2 separate regions of the Homo sapiens genome follow, and region 1 is linked to region 2. Evidence: fine-mapped expression QTL. Tissue or cell type: monocytes after LPS. Region 2 holds a variant in brackets; the other region holds the start of a gene. All regions are shown on one strand. Distances are between the middles of the regions.

Evidence for each region. PIP is the estimated chance that this variant, and not a neighbour inherited with it, causes the effect.
Region 1: it holds the start of SCAT1, and the variant in region 2 is fine-mapped to the expression of SCAT1 in monocytes after LPS (Quach 2016, PIP 0.95).

Annotation. Positions count from the first base shown.
Region 1 is chr17:78,629,054-78,634,196 of GRCh38, reverse strand. SCAT1 (S-phase cancer associated transcript 1) reads left to right here and starts at 2,140. Exons shown (of 5, transcript NR_110849.1): 1 at 2,140-2,207; 2 at 3,767-4,165. RefSeq lists an enhancer at 1,805-2,306.
Region 2 is chr17:79,225,637-79,230,779 of GRCh38, reverse strand. All of the region lies in intron 4 of RBFOX3 (RNA binding fox-1 homolog 3), which reads left to right. Among named protein-coding and RNA genes, the nearest start is that of ENGASE, 150 kb to the right of the region's middle. RefSeq lists an enhancer at 2,386-3,157. The variant G/A (reference allele first, on the strand shown) is at 2,523.

The DNA.
Region 1 (5,143 bases), 600 kb after region 2:
AAGTGCCTTTCAGTAGCTATTGAAATGTTACTGAAATGTTCAAATGGTCTCTCACTTTTAGTTTATTCATATAACAATTTATGTGGGTAAATATCTTAATTTGAACCAAACTTATGTTCTGGAATCAAGCCTACTGAGTCATGGGATTTTTTTTTTTTTTTTGAGATGGAGTCTCACTCTGTTGCCCAGGCTGGAGTGCAGTGGCGTGATCTTGGCTCACTGCAAGCTCTGCCTCCTGGGTTCACACCATTCTCCTGCCTCAGCCTCCCAAGTAGCTGGGATTACAGGCACCGCCACCATGCCCAGCTAATTTTTTTGTATTTTTAGTAGAGATGGGGTTTCACTGTGTTAGCCAGGATGGTCTCGATCTCCTGACCTCATGATCCACCTGCCTCAGCCTCCCAAAGTGCTGGGATTACAGGTGTGAGCCACCATACCTGGCCGGGATCACTTTTATTTTTTTAGAGAGAGGGTTTCACCATGTTGCCCAGGCTGGTCTCAAATTCCTGGGCTCAAGCAATCTTCCCACCTTGGCCTCCCAAAATGCTGGGATTACAGGTGTGAGCCACCGCACCCAGCCTCCTAAGGATCATTTTTAATAGGGACAGTTACTGCCCACTTGCTGATGGTTGATTTGGGTTCTTGAATCTCTCATTTCCCGTGAGACATTGATCTCTCATTTTCCTTGACTACTTTGGTCAGTCTTTGCTAGCAAAGCCTTCACTTTTATAAAATAACCTAGGAAAACCTTCACTTTATAAAAATAACCTCTTGCCTGTAATCCCAGCACTTTGGGAGGCCGAGGCGGGAGAATTGCCAGAGGCCAGGAGTTTGAGACTGGCCTGGGCAATATAGTGAGACCCCATCTCTATAAAAAAAAAGATAAAATAATCTCTTCAGGGGTTCTGTAGTAATTTAAATAACATGGAAATTATATATTCATGGAAGGTTTGTCAGAATCGGTAAAATGGTGTTGGCCTGGCGACCTCTGGGGGGAAGGGAGAGGGGGAGAAGTTTGTTTTTGTTTTTGAGACAGTCTCTCTCTGTCGCTCAGGCTGGAGTGCAGTGGCGTGATCTCAGCTCACTGCAACCTCCGTTTCCTGGGTTCAAGTGATTCTCGTGCCTCAGCCTCCCAAGTAGCTGAGATTACAGGTGCCTGCCACCACGCCCTGCTAATTTTTGTATTTTTAGTAGAGACGGGGCTTTGCCATGTTGCCCAGGGTGGTCTCAAACTCCTGGGCTCAAGTGACCTGCCCGCCTTGGCCTCCCCAAGTGCTGGCATTACAGGTGTGAGCCGCCCACCGTGCCCAGCCTGTTTTTGTTTTTTTGATTTTTGTTTTTGGCTCAAACCAGCAGTCCCCAACCTTTTTGGCACCAGGGATGAGTTTTGTGGAAGAAAATTTTTTCCATGGATGGGGGCAGGGGTGGGGGATGGTTTCAGGATGATTCAAGCACATTACATTGATTGTGTACTTTATTATCATTACATTGTAATATATAATGAAATCCTTATACAACTGCGCTATCATGAAGAATCAGTGGGAGCCCTGAGCTTGTTTTCCTGCAACTAGACAGACCCATCTGGGGGTGATGGAGATGGTGACAGGTCATCAGGCATTAGATTCTCATAAGAAGTCCACAACCGCTGGGCGCGGTGGCTCAGGGGCTGGGCTCGGAGGCTCACGCCTGTAATCCCAGCACTTTCGGAGGCCCAGGAGGGCAGATCACGAGGTCAGGAGATCGAGACCATCCTGGCTAACACGGTGAAACCCTGTCTCTACTAAAAATACAAAAAAATTAGCCAGGCATGGTGGTGGGCACCTGTAGTCCCAGCTACTCAGGAGGCTGAGGCAGGAGAATGGCGTGAACCCGGGAGGCGGGGCTTGCAGTGAGCCGAGATTGCGCCACTGCACTCCAGCCTGGGCGACAGAGCGAGACTGTGTCTCAAAAAAAAAAAAAAAAAAAAAAAAAAAAAGCCCACAACCTAGATCCCTCGCATGCGCAGTTTACAATACCGTTCGTGCTCCTCTGAGAATCAAATGCCACCACTGATCTGACAGGAGGCGGAGTTCTGCGGTAACATGAGTGATGAGGAGTGGCTGCAAATACAGATGAAGCTTCGTTTGCTCACTTCCTGTTGTGTGGCCCAGACAGGGCACTGTCTGTGGCCCCAGGGGTTGAGGACCCCTGGCTTTAACAACAGAAAGGTACCATCTTACAGTTCTGGAGGCCAAAGTCTGATATCCAGGTGTCTGCAGGGTTGATCCCTTCTGAGGCTGTGAGCAGGACCCCCTCCAGGCTCTCCTCTGGCCTTTGGTTTCCTTCCTTCCTTCCCTCCCTCCCTCACTCCTTTTCTCTCTCTTTCTTTCCTCCCCTCCCCTCTTCTCCCCTCTTCTCCCCTCCCCTCCCCTCCCGTTCTCCCCTCCCCTCCCCTCTCTTCTCCCTTCCCCTCTTCTCCCCTCCCCTCCCCTCTTCTCTCCTCTTCTCCCCTCCCCTCCCCTCTTCTCTCCTCTTCTCCCCTCCCCTCTTCTCCCCTCTTCTCCCCTCTTCTCTTCTCACTCTTTTGCCCAGGCTGGCGTGGTTTATGTTTGTGGTTTTTCTTTATTTATCTTGCCAGACATTTGCACGTTTTGATGAACTTTTCAAACAGCCAGTTCTTTGCTTTATATTCAATTGTAGACTGAGTTTTCCTGGGGGGTGTTGGAATTGGGGAGGAAGGATCTTTTTTTTTTTTTTTTTTGAGATGGAGTCTCACTCTGTCACCCAGGCTGGAGTCCAGTGGTGTGATCTCCACTCACTGCAACCTCTGCCTCCCAGGTTCAAGTGATTCTCCTGCCTCAGCCTCCTGAGTAGCTGAGATTACAGGCACCTGCCACCACACCCAGCTAATTTTTTGTTTGTTTCTTTGTTTGTTTCTTTGTTTGTTTGTAGAGATGGGATTTCACCATGTTGGTCAGGCTGGTCTTGAACTCCTGACCTCAAATGATCTGCCTGCTTCAACCTCCCAAAGTGCTGGGATTACAGGCATGAGCCACCGTGCCTGGCTGTGATCATTTATCTTGGCTTTTTTCTTAAGTCTTCTTCTGTTTCTGTTCTGCAGTGCATGGTGGCTCGTTTGTGTGAGTTCAACGCTCAGCTGTGCATTGTTTATCTCTTAGAGCAGGTGTGAATTTTCTGTTTTCAACCAGCTATGTGCAAACATGAACTCCTATTTTTATAACTGCTCAGACATTCCTATGACAGGGCCTCATTTCTGCTTGGCAACAAGAAAACTGAATTTAATTTCATTTAATCGGGTAAACAGTTCTGTCGGGTATTTTTCTCTAGCGGAGTCTGGTTGAAAGCTTCATCGCTCACAGAGAACATTCCAGCATTAGTGTCATGGCCTCTGGCCGGTGCAAGGGTTTCTCGGAGCCCAGGTGGCTCCCTGCGGGGAGGAGAATTCGACGCTCTGTCCCCTTCCTCTGCCAGGGACCCACTTACTAGTCTCCGGGGCTGCTGTAATAGAGGAACACAAACTGGGTGGCATCAAACAACATCACATTTCTCACAGTTCTGGAGGCCAAACTGCAACATCAAGATATTAACAGATAATGACCTGCTCCCTCTGCAGGCTGTAGGGGAAGAGCCTCCCTTGTCTTTCCCGGCTTCCAGGGCTGCTGGCCATCCTGGGCGTCCTTTGGCTTGTGGCTGCCTGGCTGCCATCCCTGCACCCGTTGTCGCTTGACCTTCCGTTCATGTGCCTCTGTTCTCTCTCCTTATACAGACCCCAGTTACTGGATTGGGATCCACCCTCACTCAATATGGCCTCAGCTTAATGAAAGACATCTGCAGAGACCCTATTTCTACTAAAAGCCACATTCTGAGACTTCTCGTGGGCGTGAGTTTTTGAGAGACACTGTTCTGCTCCATGCAGGGAGGGAATTGGGATCTGAAGACGTTGCATTCGAGGTCTCGGGGCTCCTGATGAGCAGCCTCGGCCTGACCTGGGGCAGGTGTGATGTCTGCGGCTCACCATCTCCACCCTGCCTGCTGTGGAATCTCCACAACGACAGGTGCTTTGGAGGCCAGAGTGCATGCGTACGGGCCCTGCACACGCTGAATGTCACTGGGAACAAGGACACACCCCGCTTCCAGGAGAAGATAGAACATGTCGACCCCTTTTGTGAGTACAATTTTTTGAAGTCTCCAAAGCAATGGGACTGCCCCGGGGAAGATGGAGGCTGTGAAGGGAGTGTTGACCCCAGTGGGAGGTGAACGGAACGGGATATGCGGGCGCTCGGGGTGGAAGAACGACGTAGGCGGTCAGTGGTCGGTGGGCCATGCCCACATCCGGGCTAGATGTCACTATGGTGCTGTTCTGTTTCCACACAGCCAGACAATGCACAAAATAGGCCATCTGGGCCATCTGGGGCGAACATCCAGCCTGGAGGCCCTCGAACAAGCCCACTGAGGGCCTCCAGTTGGGGGCACACATGGGTGACACCTGGCCTAGTGACGCCCCACCTGGGTTGCACGTTAAAGTCACTGGGGAACTTTTAAAGGGCTGATGTCTGATTTCTCCAGGGATTCCGAGGTGAGCGGGAACGAGGTGCGGTCTGGGCTTGGGGGTTTTAGTGTTGGTCATCCACAGCGACACTGAGAACGGAGGCTCTCTGTGGGTGAGCCCTTGGGGAACCCAGCTGACCAGGCCCCTGGGGTCCCATGAGGCCTAAGTCTGAGAAGACTTGTGTCTCCCAGAGCCTGCGGGCCGTCCCAGGCTTGTACCTCTGGCCCCGCTCTCCGCTCAGGCCGCTGAACAGGGCTGATCCACGTCCTTCAAACAGCTGCTCAGATATTTCAAATCAGCTTTCATGGGCTTTTCCATAGGAAGGGGACGTCTGCTTGCTGAAGCCAGCAGCTGGCCCGGCGGGAGGTGTGTCAGATGTGCTGGGGGAGCCGTGACCTTTCCTGGGTCCCCCACTGCTCAGCGCAGCCGCCTCAGGCACGCAGAGAGGATGGCCGAGGCTGCCAGAGGCCCTGTGGCTAGGTGTGAAGGACCTCTGGGTGCTGGAATCTGCACGTGTTCCTGTGTAGTGCTCAGCCCCTAGAGGACTTGCAGGTGGAGTGGGCGAGGACAAGTTTCTGGGGAGGACAGAGGCCT
Region 2 (5,143 bases):
TGGAAGGAGACGAGCTACAGGGCTGTCAGAAGCACTCGTGAGCCTGGGACACACAGTCCTAGTGTAGAGACAGGCACCTTTGCTTCCCATGCCTTGAGAACAGCCTCCTCTCCTCAATGATGAGGGCTCTGCAGGAGCCGGAACTTAGCTCTGGAAAGGCTTAGCAAGACTGCTTCACAGCGTTTCTTCTCAGGAACATTTTGATTGTAAAGAATAAGGAGAGCCGGGTGCCGTGGCTCACCCCTGTAATCCCAGCACTTTGGGAGGCCGAGGCGGGCGGATCACGAGGTCAGCAGATCGAGACCAGCCTGGCCAACATGGTGAAACCCCATCTCTACTAAAAATACAAAAAATTAGCCGGGTATGGTGGCGGGTGACTGTAGTCCCAGCTACTCTGGAGGCTGAAGCAGGAGAATCGCTTGAACCCAGGAGGCAGAGGTAGCAGTGAGCCAAGATCGTACCACTGCACTCCAGCCTGGGTGACAAAGCAAGACTCCATCTCAAAAAAATAAATAAATAAATATGGAGAGAAAGTGAGAGAAAAACAATGCCTCCAAGCCTCTCAAAGACTGGGTGGTGAGGAACATGAGAAAACTGGGGAGAAGGGAACCTAGAGGCCGACGGCAACCCAACCAGCCTCATCATCACTGCGTGTCACTGTGCCTCTGGGCGGCACCCCCCTTGCCCCCAGTGAGAATAGCTGAGGAGGACCCATGAGAAGCTGAGCCTGTTTGGTCTTCCAAATCATGGTCCCTGCACCTGCCTCAGCTGAGTCGGACATACCCAATCCTTTATCTGGGCACAGCATCTCCAGCTGATTAGGAGCTTGGACACAGGTCATCACAAGTGAAACCTGCCGTCCCATGTCATCCGTACAACAGGCCTGTTCAAAAGGCAGGAATGGTGTCCCTATTCTACAGATGAGGAAACTGAGGCTTAGGATGGGTCGATTATTCACCCAGGCCCACGTTGGAAGTGGCCAAGGCAAGACCACAGTCCTGGTTGTTCAGGCTACTTTTCACACTGAGAATTTCCCTGGAGAAGTCAAGCCTCCCTGTAGGAGACTGTGGATTTCACGGGTTTGGATTTCTGAGCCCATTCCCATCCCCACCTCCTCATGCCACCCCAAAGGAGCTCTCTGACCAGTGGGAGATGCAGAGGACTCCACCCTTCCTGGCCCACTTGAGCTCTCCTGTCTTTTTTTTTTTTTTTTTTTTTTTTGAGATGGAGTCTTGCTCTGTCACCCAGGTTGGAGTGTAGTGGCACCATCTCAGCTCACTGTAACCTCTGCCTCCCAGGTTCAAGCAATTATCCTGCTTCAGCCTCTTGAGTAGCTGGGATTGCAGATGTGCACCACCACACTTGGCTAATTTTTTTGTATTTTTAGTAGAGATGGTGTTTCACCATGTTGGTCAGGCTGGTGTCAAACTCCTGACCTCAAGTGATCTGCCCTCCTCGGCCTCCCAAAGTGCTGGGATTACAGATGTGAGCCACCACGCCCAGCCCTGTCCCTTTTTTTTTTTTTTTTTTTTTTTTTTTTTTTTTTTTTGACAGAGTCTCATTCACACTGTCACCCAGGCTGGAGTGCGATGGCACAGTCTCGGCTCACTGCAACCTCTGCCTACCGTGCTCAAGCCATTCTCCTGCCTCAGCCTCCCAAGTAGCTGGGATTACAGGCGTATGCCACCACGCCTGGCTACTTTTTTTGTATTTTTAGTAGAGATGGGATTTCACCATATTGGCCAGCTGGTCTTGAACTCCTGACCTCAAGTGATCCGCCCATCTCGGCCTCCCAAAGTGCTGGGATTACAGGCATGAGCCACTGCGCCCGGCCCTCTCCTGTCCTTTGAGAGAACATTTCCAATATCAGAGTTGCCAGCTGCCTAGCTTCATGGAACTGCAAGGCTCCTGCCTCACCAGAGTGTTTTGTAATGAGTCAGGTGGCAGGAGCGCTTGGTATGCGCACACGTGTTTGGACTAGCGCATCAGTTAGGCTACTGTGATGGGGGAAATAAAGAGCAATGCCCCAGAATGTTGACCACAAAGGGTTAACCCAAACTCACGGCTATTTCTGACTCTGAGAAGGCCAAAGCTGCTTTGCTCCACGTCAGGGATGCAGCCTGGGCACTGCTTGTTGGCAAATCAGCTCCCAAACGCTCAAGTTCTGCATCACGGAACCTGAAGAGGGTCCCTGGTGCCTCCCTTGGCTTTCTGGATGTATCCAGTTGGGTGGTTTTGTGCTACCCATGAAAGAAGCAGGACATTAAACATTTGAGATGGGATCGGAGGACAATGGAAAGAAATCTGTGAGTGTGTGTGTGTTTGTGTGGAAGTATGAAAACCCCAAGTCTGTGTTTTCCCCAGAGTATTAATTACAGCTGGAGAGGAGGCTTGTCCGGGCGTGTTCCGCTTGGGCAGAGTAATTTCTCCCTGGTTTTCAGGGAGCGGGAGGCGTCACGGTGCAGAGAGCAGGACACACACCTCTCTCTCAGGCTTCATGGCCACCCCGCCCGCTCCGGAGC[G/A]GACAGCTTTGCCAAGGCACAGGCCGGAGGGAACACGGAGAGCCCACGGATAGCGCCAGGGAGGAGAGGCGAGATAGTGAGGTCTTGACACAATCCCACTTAAGACAGAACAGGTGACGAGAGAGACCTGTAAGCAGCTTAGAAGGAGGAGCAGGCCAGGCTCCGTCCTACGGAGGAAGGGCAGGGAAGACATGCGTCCCTGGCCAGCCTGGCTGCCCACACCTGGGTCCTTCTGACCCTGCAGGCCTTACATTGACGCTGACCGCAGGGCCCCTTGTCTCTCCAGAGGATTCGTAGGGGGAGGTCCACAAAGAAGGTGGGTTTTATCGCTGTTGGTGGCTAAAAAGCTGCAGTACCTATCTGCTCCCCACTAAGCAAAGTGGAGGTCCATGCAATGTGATGGCTACAATTCAGGACCTCGCTGGCCTTGGCATTACCAGCTCAGAAGGAAAAACCAACACAGAGGCCCCGAGCCTACCTTCCCCTGCCCCTGGATTTCTCCCACCCTCACCTGGACACTGAGGCCACCTGCCTGCATCCCTCAGGCTGGTCAGGGTCTTCCTGGGCACTTTGCTTTTTGCCTCTTGGCCATCACATGTGCTCCAGTTATAAGCCATGGAAGAGTGAGTAACCGCCGCCAGTCAGCCTCCCCACGCCGCCATCCCCCAGCCAGCCGGGAATGAGCGGGGCCCTGTGCTGAATCCTTCTCTATGGCAGAGTCCCCCACTGGCATCAGAGACCTGCTCATCTCCTGTGCAGTGAGCACAAATGACATGCTTGAGATGCAACAAGGAGCCAAACAAAGCCCCTGCCCTGGACGAGCTGATGCTCAAACAATACTCACCCCCTCTTAGGGGTGGGCTGGATTTCTGACATCCATGGGGACACCTCCATCTGGTCCATGGGATCAAAGGACACCAGCCCAGGAGGAAAAGGGGAAACCACTCCGAAACTGAGGCCCAACCTGCCTCTGTGGATGTTCTCTGGCTCGCTGCTTCGCTGGACCTCTCAGGACTTACTTTGTCCCTCCTCTGCTGGAATTCGCCTCTGGGGACTCAACACACAAAACTGGTGGTCTCGGCCAAAACCAGCAAGAAGTCTCCATGGCTCCTTTGCTGAGTGTCCAGCCTGCCAACTGGCTGGCGCTTGCAGATAAGTTAGAGGGAGAGGGAAGGAGGGAGGGAAGAGACACGGGAGTGAGAAAGGGGAGCAAGGCGGGGTTGGAGGCACCGCAGCCTTCTGCTGCTTCTGCAGATGCTCCGCGCAGGCCAGAGTGAGAGGTCCCTGCCCAGAATGCTTAGTGGGTTCCCCCAGGCCTGGCAGGTCCCAGAGCCTCCCGAGCAACTTGTCAGAGCTGGAGTCTGTCCTTATCCAGTCTCACGCTGGTGTAGAAATTTGCCAGCCTCACGCTCCCTCTTTCCTAACTCACATACCTGCAAATGCCCATGTCCCTTGATTAATGTGATATTTTTTATCCAATACCTGTGTGCCAGACCCTCCACCTTGGTGACTGCTAAACCCCCATAGTCACCCCAGGAAGGTAGATGTTGCCATCCCCACTCTACCAAAAAGGGAACAGAGGCTCAGAAAGGTTAAGTAATCTGCTCAAAGCTGCCCAGCAGGACAGTGGCTGGTCTGGAATTTGAGCTCAGGTCTGAGTTTTGCCACATCCCAGGCTCCTCCTGCTCCACAGGGTGATGCCCAGGACACACTGGGTGCAGTCACAGACCCCATGCGTTCTCTTGACCACGGTGGGAAGCATAGCAGGCAGGTGACTGCTCATCAGGCCAGGAAGCCATCCCCACCTCCCCGTGAATACCAACCATTACAAAATCCTCAGGCTGAGCAAAGATGGTCATGAGGTCCATCTTTAGACACCTGGCCCACTTCCTATCCAGGGAATGTGCTGTTGGGGTGACGCTAATACGGTTAAAGCCCAAGTTGGGCTGCACTCCTCCTCTGCTCCAAATCCTCCTGTGACTCCCACTTCTCTTGGAGAAAGGCCAAAGTCCTCACAATACCCTCCCATATAGGACCTCCTATGATCTGACCACTTCTCCCACTGCTGCCTGCCCACTCTCATTACTCCAGCCCATGGGCCACCTTGCTGGTTCCCCAAATAGCTAGACATATCCCATGATGTGGAATGCCCTTTGCCAGGGATATTCTTTTTGCTGGAATATTCTCCCCAGAAAGCCTCAGAGCCCCCTCTTTGGGCCTATCCAGATGGGCCTGAACATCACCTCATCAATTACACTTACTCTGACCACCTGGCTGAACACTGCAGCCCCCTCCTCTGCCCTCCCACACCCCCATCCTGCTTCCCCCACCACTGTCGCCCTTTGACATGCAAGACAATTTTCTAAATTATGTTTGTTGACTCTCCTCCCCAGTACGGGGTAAAGCCCAGGAGTGCAGGAAGGTTAACCTGTTTGGTTCAAAGCTGGGTCCCTGGTGTGGAATGGGCCCAGCCTGCAGTTGGCACCTCACACACATTTGTGGACTTGCTGCTGAGGCAGAAGGGACCCAGTACCCCCTCCGGCTCTGCCCAGCAGCCCCCTACCCAGCTGGGGTCTGTGGGTCCTCGAGGCATGGACACACGCTCCCCTTGGCTGTGAGGA